Linked DNA regions of Homo sapiens: region 2 is linked to region 1. Evidence: fine-mapped expression QTL. A gene starts in region 1. The other region holds a variant in brackets. All regions are shown on one strand. Distances are from middle to middle. Region 1 holds the start of MIER2 (MIER family member 2). Region 2 overlaps LOC124904605.

Evidence for each region. PIP is the estimated chance that this variant, and not a neighbour inherited with it, causes the effect.
Region 2: its variant is fine-mapped to the expression of MIER2 in CD4 T cells (Kasela 2017, PIP 0.95).

Annotation. Positions count from the first base shown.
Region 1 is chr19:342,308-346,485 of GRCh38, reverse strand. MIER2 (MIER family member 2) reads left to right here and starts at 1,690. Exons shown (of 14, transcript NM_017550.3): 1 at 1,690-1,712. The coding sequence starts at 1,704. RefSeq lists silencers at 1,346-1,795, 1,866-1,915, 2,216-2,325 and an enhancer at 2,634-3,585.
Region 2 is chr19:300,123-304,300 of GRCh38, reverse strand. It overlaps LOC124904605, which reads left to right. Exons shown (of 2, transcript XM_047439789.1): 1 at 1-908; 2 at 975-2,219. The coding sequence ends at 1,880. Among named protein-coding and RNA genes, the nearest start is that of PLPP2, 11 kb to the right of the region's middle. The variant C/T (reference allele first, on the strand shown) is at 1,805.

The DNA.
Region 1 (4,178 bases):
CAGGCTGGTCTCAAACTCCTGACCTCAAGTGATCCTCCTGCCTCTGCCTCCCCAAGTGTTAGGATTAGAGGTGTGAGTCACCGTTCCAAGCCACAATACCCTTCTCTTCACCCAAGTCCTCATTTGACATCTATGTGATGATTCTTGCCAAGCCCTCTCCTAAGAGTCTTCCCTCGTTTTGCCAGGTGGACTCAAGCCCTTGTCTTCGGGCCCCTCCACCTGTTACAGCACAGCACCTCACTCTCTTATCTGTTCATGCTTCTCCCTGCTTCACAGGACCTCTGGCTACCCAGCACCCAGTTGAGGACTGCATAAGATATGTGTTTAGTTCACTGAATGACTGAATGAATAATAACAAATGAATAATAAAGGAAGGAACCAACTCTTGCACAAATCAGTGAGGACTCTTCAACACGAGGGCCAGAACCCTCAATCTCAATGATGTAAACCAAAAAAGGAGTGAGGGTAGACCCCTCCAGAGTGGTTCTTCTATCTCTTGGTTGGTGAATTCTCAGAGGACTGAGTAATGATTTTGCATCAGGAATCAAGGCTGATGCATGTCAAGTTCTCACTATTCATTGGCTGATCACTGGGAAACAGGAATGAGACTCATTCTCTTCTTCCTGGTCCCCAATTCCCTTCCTCCTGGTCCCCAATTCCCTTCTTCCTGGTCTCCAGTTCTCTTCTTCCTGGTCTCAGTAGGAACCGCCCTCCACTCATTTGCGCAAGCCAGACATCTGGAGGCCATCCTTCACTCTCTCCAGCTTCCCTCCATCAGCGAGTCTTGTGGTGTCCACCTTCTCAAGTCTCTCTGCACTCTGGTCCAGGCCCCACAGCTCCCACCTGGCCCCTGCCTCTTCACGCCCCACCCCTGCTTCCTATCCTCTCTCTGCATCGTGCGCCCCGAAGATTCACGGCACTTATCCGTCTCAAATTTAAGGTGTGGCGAGTCCTTGCCTTCCCATCCTCCACTCTAAACGCCCTGAAGACAGGCGTTAGGGCTGTCTCCTTCAAACCCTCAGGATCAGAACGTGCACGTGTTCCAGAAATGTTCAATCTGCGAAACGACGGACTGCAGAACCAAATGGCCCTGGGGTCAAGCCCACCTCCCTGCCTCCCGCCTTGGGCTCTCCGGCGCGGGGCCACCGTTTCTAAAACCTCTCCGACTGGTGCGCGTTCGCAAGCTCCCCGATTGGTTCCTCCGCGCGCTAGTTTGCTCATCACGGGTGCGAAAGTGCAGAAAATTCCAGAACCACGCAGCCCGGACACCAATTCTGGCTCTATCACTGACACTCTGGGTGGCCCGTCGCCCTGGGCCTCAGTTTCCTAGTCTGCCACGCGGGGTATTAACAGCGAGCAGCCGAGGGAATGAAGAGGTCACACAGGACCACGTGGTCCCCACGCAGGTGTGATTATCAGGAATTCGTATTTTTATGGAATGCAGTCTCCTCCGCCAAGGCCAAGGCCAAGATCAGGGTCCAGCAGAGACGGCCGGAAAGACACCGCAAGCTCGCCAGAAGCCGCCGGCCACGCTCGGCTGCGCGCCCGCGCCCGCGCCCGCGCACCTACTACGCGCCCGGCCCGCTCTCCGCCCCCTCCAGGCTCCGCCCCCTGCCCCGCCCTCCAGGCTCCACAGCCAATGAGTGCGCGGCCCCTCATCCGGGGATCCCGGCGCGGCCACCGCCTCCCGCGCACACACGGCCATGGCGGAGGTGAGTGAGCGGGCCGGGGGAGCCGGCCCCCCGCCCCCGCGCGTCCGCGCCCCCCGCCGCCGTGGCTCGGCCTCGTCGTGGGCCCCAGGGACGGAGAGCCCCGCTCTGGAGCTCTGAGGCCGGCCGGGGCGCCTGGCCCGTCCGGGGCCGGAGGGGCGCGGGGCTCCATCGGCGGCCGCCCCCGGCCGGCCCCCACCCCCCAACTCCCCCGGCTGCCACATCGCGGGCTGCAGTGCGCATGCGCGGCGGCGCGGGGCGGGCGGGGGCCGGGGTGGGGGAGGGGAGGGACGCGGGGCGGGGCTGGTGTCGGGGGTCCGGTGGGCGCGCGGCTCCGTTCCAGGGTCCGGCTCCGGTTCCCGGCCCCGGCCCGGGCCCCGCGGCGCGCAGGCCTCCCCTCCCGCGCCTTTGCCAACTTTGCCGAGTGCTGGGGCCGCCAGGCGCCCCGCGCTCCCCATCGGGATCCCGGTGGACCCACCGCGCCTCCGCCGCCCGCGAGCCCCCCGGCGGGGCTGGGTCAGACCCCGGGCGGGATTTGAACTCCCGACGCGGACCCGCCTGGCGCGAACTGGGCGCAGGGTGGGTGGGTCTGCCGGGGCCTAGAGAGCGTCGGGGCTGATCTCAGAAGAGTTGGACCAGCCTCTCCCGGGCACGAAGTTACTTCTGGAGCCTCCTCCCTCGTCCAGGAAACAAGCCCGGGACCCTTTATCTGAAATGTTTGGGACCAGCTATATTTTGGAATCCAGAATTTTTCCAATTTGAGGATCTGTGGGATTTTGGACTGTGATGTTTGATCAAACCCACCTAGGACTGTCTAGGATAAGACAACAGATAGCTTCGTGTCAGGTCAAACCAGGAAGGAAGAAACTTTCGCTTTTGAAGCTTTTTTTGATTTTGGAGTGGTGGATGAGCCTGTGTGGACTTGCTTTCACCTTGGAGGGCCCTGGTGAAGATGGAAAGAGATAATGTAGGTGAAGGTGCGGCGGCTGCGAGGTGCTCAGTCAGTGGGACTCAGTGCATGACTTCTGTGCGCAGAAGTTACGACAGGCGGGCAGACTCAAGAGCTGATCCTATCTCTGGGATAGAGCCCAAAGGAAAAGGTGCCCACCCAGCCAGGCACAGCCGCCTCGTGGGAAGCCGGGATTGGAACTGCGGCCTGGCCGTGGTGCCACGTTGCGTGTTTATGTCTTGGGCGTTGTGGGAGGCAGGACTGGCCATTCTCTCCCCCTGGTGACGACCTCAGGGGCAGTAACAGGCCCTGTGTTTATGCCAAAGACGGTGTAGGTGTCTCGATACTAGGCCAGACCACCGGCCAGTTCCTTCATCGAGAATTAGTTCTTCTTGAGACGCTTAGGGAGACTGAGTCCCCATGCAGATGGTGGCTGTCCTCCAGGGTCGGAGGCAGAAGCCGCGTCTCCCAGTGGCCCTGCAGCGACGTGGTGGTCGAATGAGTTGTGCTCCTGGAATCTGGGCAACACACGTGGCCTGACAGGTAGCTCTGTGTCTGGGATGGCACAAGTCAGACTCCCAAGCCAGCCTCCCCCAGAGCTGCCATGTGGCTGTTCTGCCCTGCTCTAGGCTGAGCTCCGTAAATGTGCACAGCAGCTTGTGGTCCGGCTGCTCCTGTTAACCCTGTTTTACACTTTGGGGTGGTGCCCTGTTGAGTGAATTTGATTTGATTTTCTAAGGAGGTCCCGCTCTGTCCTCGGCCTGAGGATCTGGGAGTGAATGGAGCAGACAGGGCCTCTCCTACAGGGATGCAGAGTCTGGTCAGAGAGAGACGTGGGTGGGTTAGGACCAACAAGTATGAGGTGCTGAGCGTGAGGAGCCATGGCAAGCTGTCTGACCACCGGACTTGTTCTGTGTGGTCTTGGGCAGGTTGCCCAGTGACTCAGAACTTCCTTTTCCTCATCTCTGAAATGGGAAGTTTAATGGTCACCCTTCAGAGCTAGGAGGTCTGATGAGGTCCTGCCACAACGGCTTGTACATGGAAGTTGAATCTTGTGAAGTTGACGATATTCCACTGTTTTTAACCCGTAAAAGTGGCAATTTGTAACTTTATAGCACGTGATCAGTACTAGCTACTTTATTCTGTATCAGTATCCCAGAATAATCATAAGCACCACAGTGGCAGACGGGAATGCTTCATACTTTTCTCAGGCATACTAGATTGATCTTTTAAAAACCTAAGAGCACCATCTTTTGCTCCTACCTAAAACCCTCCATGGCTTTTCATGGTCCCTGGGATAAAATGCTCCTCCTTGCTGAGTCCCACAGCCCTGTGAGGTGGTCCCCACGGATCTGCCCCCTACTCTAGGGCCCTGGGCTCCTGTTTGCTGGTGCACTCTACCCATTTGGGGGCTGCCAACGATGGTTCCACCTCGACTGAGGCCCCCCAGGCCTTCCCTGACCCGCAGTTGCAGAGCCCGTGCGCCCTGTTTTCTCTTCTCGGTACCATACATGTCCACT
Region 2 (4,178 bases), 42 kb after region 1:
TGTCTGATGAGGGTGTGCTTTGGTGTATTGAGGAGTCTGATGAGAATGTGCTTTGGTGTATTGAGGTGTCTGATGAGGATGTGCTTTGGTGTATTGAGTCTGATGAGGATGTGCTTTGGTGTATTGAGTCTGATGAGGATGTGCTTTGGTGTATTGAGGTGTCTGATGAGAATGTGCTTTGGTGTATTGAGTCTGATGAGGATGTGCTTTGGTGTATTGAGGTGACTGATGAGAATGTGCTTTGGTGTATTGAGGTGTCTGATGAGGGTGTGCTTTGGTGTATTGAGGTGTCTGATGAGGATGTGCTTTGGTGTATTGAGGAGTCTGATGAGGATGTGCTTTGGTGTATTGAGTCCGATGAGGATGTGCTTTGGTGTATTGAGGTGTCTGATGAGAATGTGCTTTGGTGTATTGAGTCTGATGAGAATGTGCTTTGGTGTATTGAGTCTGATGAGGATGTGCTTTGGTGTATTGAGGTGTCTGATGAGAATGTGCTTTGGTGTATTGAGTCTGATGAGGATGTGCTTTGGTGTATTGAGGAGTCTGATGAGGATGTGCTTTGGTGTATTGAGTCTGATGAGGATGTGCTTTGGTGTATTGAGGTGTCTGATGAGAATGTGCTTTGGTGTATTGAGTCTGATGAGAATGTGCTTTGGTGTATTGAGTCTGATGAGGATGTGCTTTGGTGTATTGAGGTGTCTGATGAGAATGTGCTTTGGTGTATTGAGGAGTCTGATGAGGATGTGCTTTGGTGTATTGATGAGGATGTGCTTTGGTGTATTGAGGTGTCTGATGAGGATGTGCTTTGGTGTATTGAGTCTGATGAGAATGTGCTTTGGTGTATTGAGTCTGATGAGAATGTGCTTTGGTGTATTGAGTCTGATGAGGATGTGCTTTGGTGTATTGAGGTGTCTGATGAGAATGTGCTTTGGTGTATTGAGGTGTCTGATGAGGGTGTGCTTTGGTGTATTGAGGAGTCTGATGAGGATGTGCTTTGGTGTATTGAGTCTGATGAGGATGTGCTTTGGTGTATTGAGGTGTCTGATGAGGATGTGCTTTGGTGTATTGAGTCTGATGAGGATGTGCTTTGGTGTATTGAGTCTGAAGAGGATGTGCTGTGGTGTATTGAGGTGTCTGATGAGGATGTACTTTGGTGTATTGAGGTGTCTGATGAGGATGTGCTTTGGTGTATTGAGGAGTCTGATGAGGATGTGCTTTGGTGTATTGAGTCTGATGAGGATGTGCTTTGGTGTATTGAGGTGTCTGATGAGAATGTGCTTTGGTGTATTGAGGAGTCTGATGAGGATGTGCTTTGGTGTATTGAGGAGTCTGATGAGGATGTGCTTTGGTGTATTGAGGAGTCTGATGAGGATGTGCTTTGGTGTATTGAGTCTGATGAGGATGTGCTTTGGTGTATTGAGGAGTCTGATGAGGATGTGCTTTGGTGTATTGAGTCTGATGAGGATGTGCTTTGGTGTATTGAGGTGTCTGATGAGAATGTGCTTTGGTGTATTGAGGTGTCTGATGAGGGTGTGCTTTGGTGTATTGAGTCTGATGAGGATGTGCTGTGGTGTATTGAGGTGTCTGATGAGGATGTGCTTTGGTGTACTGAGGTGTCTGATGAGGATGTACTTTGGTGTATTGAGGTGTCTGATGAGGATGTGCTTTGGTGTATTGAGGAGTCTGATGAGGATGTGCTTTGGTGTATTGAGGAGTCTGATGAGGATGTGCTTTGGTGTATTGAGTCTGATGAGGATGTGCTTTGGTGTATTGAGTCTGATGAGGATGTGCTTTGGTGTATTGA[C/T]GAGGATGTGCTTTGGTGTATTGAGGTGTCTGATGAGGATGTGCTTTGGTGTACACGTACAGTATGTAGCCTTTGAGATTGGCTTCTTTCATATTCACTGAAGGCTTCGCCATGTCTTTTCGTGGCTTGATGGCTCATTTCTTTTTCGCGCTGGATGATACTCCATCCTGGGCGTGTGCTGCAGCTTGTTTATCTACGTACCTATTGAAGGACATCTTAGCTTCCAAGCTTCGGCAGTTACGCGTAAAGACATCTTAGCAGCTTCCAAGCTTTGGCAGTTACACATAAAGACATCTTAGCAGCTTCCAAGCTTCAGCAGTTACTCATAAAGCTGCTGTAAACGCCCATGTGCAGGTTTTTGTTTTGACACAACTTTTCAGCCCATTTGGATGAATAAAGAAACCTGATTGCCGGACCGTGTGATGAGACCGTGTTTAATGAGAAGCTGCCATTTCACTCCCACCAGCAATGAGTAAGCGCTCCTGAGGCCCATGTCCTCCCCAGTGTTTGGTGGTGTCAGTATTTTGTGTTTGGCCATTCGAATAGGTGTGTAGTGGGATCTTGTTTTCCATAGCCTTTGAAGATGTGTACATTTTCGTACCTTTCTGGCGCTCTTAAGTTCTTCATTCAGACTCCGTGTTGCCAAGAGGGATAATTTTCTTTGAGTCTGAAGTGCCGTATTTAATATATATTGCCTTGTAGTTCCTCTGCAGTGACATTCTGCCTAGGCTTAGCTCTTACGTGGATCAAAAGGCCCTAATTCCTCCTCCTCTTTTGAAGTGCATTTTTACAGGATATACGGTTCTAAGTGGACTGTGTTTTTCTCTGCGCATGTTAAGGTGGTTCTATTCATGCTGTTTTCTACTGTTCTGATGAGGAATTTTCTCATTCTGTTTTCCTTACTGTGAAATCTCTTACTTCTGACTATATACATGATTTTCTTTTATTTTTGGACTTTGGCCGTTTGTGATGCACCTGGGTCTAGCTTTCTAAACTGAGCTACTTCGACCTGAGGGTGGGTGCATTTTAACAGATTTTGAAGTCTTGACTGTTATTTCTGCAGATATTTCTGTTTTCTTTTGCTTTCTTAGAGTTCCATTTCTGAAGGAGTATTTCTCAAATTTTTCTGATGTCCCACTCTGTCTTTTGGGTCTTTGGTACATGTGCCCTGTCCTGGGTGCTGTCCCACAGTCTCTCCAGTCACTGGTGTCACGGCCCTGGGTGTCCCACAGTCCCTCCAGTCACTGGTGTCACGGCCCTGGGTGTTGTCCCACAGTCTCTGCAGTCACTGGTGTCACGGCCCTGGGTGTCCCACAGTCTCCAGTCACTGGTGTCACGGCCATGGGTGTCCCACAGTCTCTCCAGTCACTGGTGTCACGGCCATGGGTGTCCCACAGTCTCTCCAGTCACTGGTGTCACGGCCATGGGTGTCCCACAGTCTCTCCAGTCACTGGTGTCACGGCCCTGGGTGTCCCACAGTCTCCAGTCACTGGTGTCACGGCCCTGGGTGACCCACAGTCTCTCCAGTCACTGGTGTCACGGCCATGGGTGTCCCACAGTCTCCAGTCACTGGTGTCACGGCCATGGGTGTCCCACAGTCTCTGCAGTCACTGGTGTCACGGCCCTGGGTGACCCACAGTCTCTCCAGTCACTGGTGTCACGGCCCTGGGTGACCCACAGTCTCTCCAGTCACTGGTGTCACGGCCATGGGTGTCCCACAGTCTCTCCAGTCACTGGTGTCACGGCCATGGGTGTCCCACAGTCACTGTCACTGGTGTCACGGCCATGGGTGACCCACAGTCTCTCCAGTCACTGGTGTCACGGCCATGGGTGACCCACAGTCTCTCCAGTCACTGGTGTCACGGCCCTGGGTGTCCCACAGTCCCTCCAGTCACTGGTGTCACGGCCATGGGTGACCCACAGTCCCTCCAGTCACTGGTGTCACGGCCATGGGTGTCCCACAGTCTCTCCAGTCACTGGTGTCACGGCCCTGGGTGACCCACAGTCCCTCCAGTCACTGGTGTCACGGCCATGGGTGTCCCACAGTCCCTCCAGTCACTGGTGTCACGGCCCTGGGTGTCCCACAGTCTCTCCAGTCACTGGTGTCACGGCCCTGGGTGACCCACAGTCCCTCCAGTCACTGGTGTCACGGCCATGGGTGTCCCACAGTCTCTCCAGTCACTGGTGTCACGGCCATGGGTGTCCCACAGTCCCTCCAGTCACTGGTGTCACGGCCATGGGTGACCCACAGTCCCTCCAGTCACTGGTGTCACGGCCATGGGTGTCCCACAGTCCCTCCAGTCACTGGTGTCACGGCCCTGGGTGTTGTCCCACAGTCTCCAGTCACTGGTGTCACGGCCCTGGGTGTTGTCCC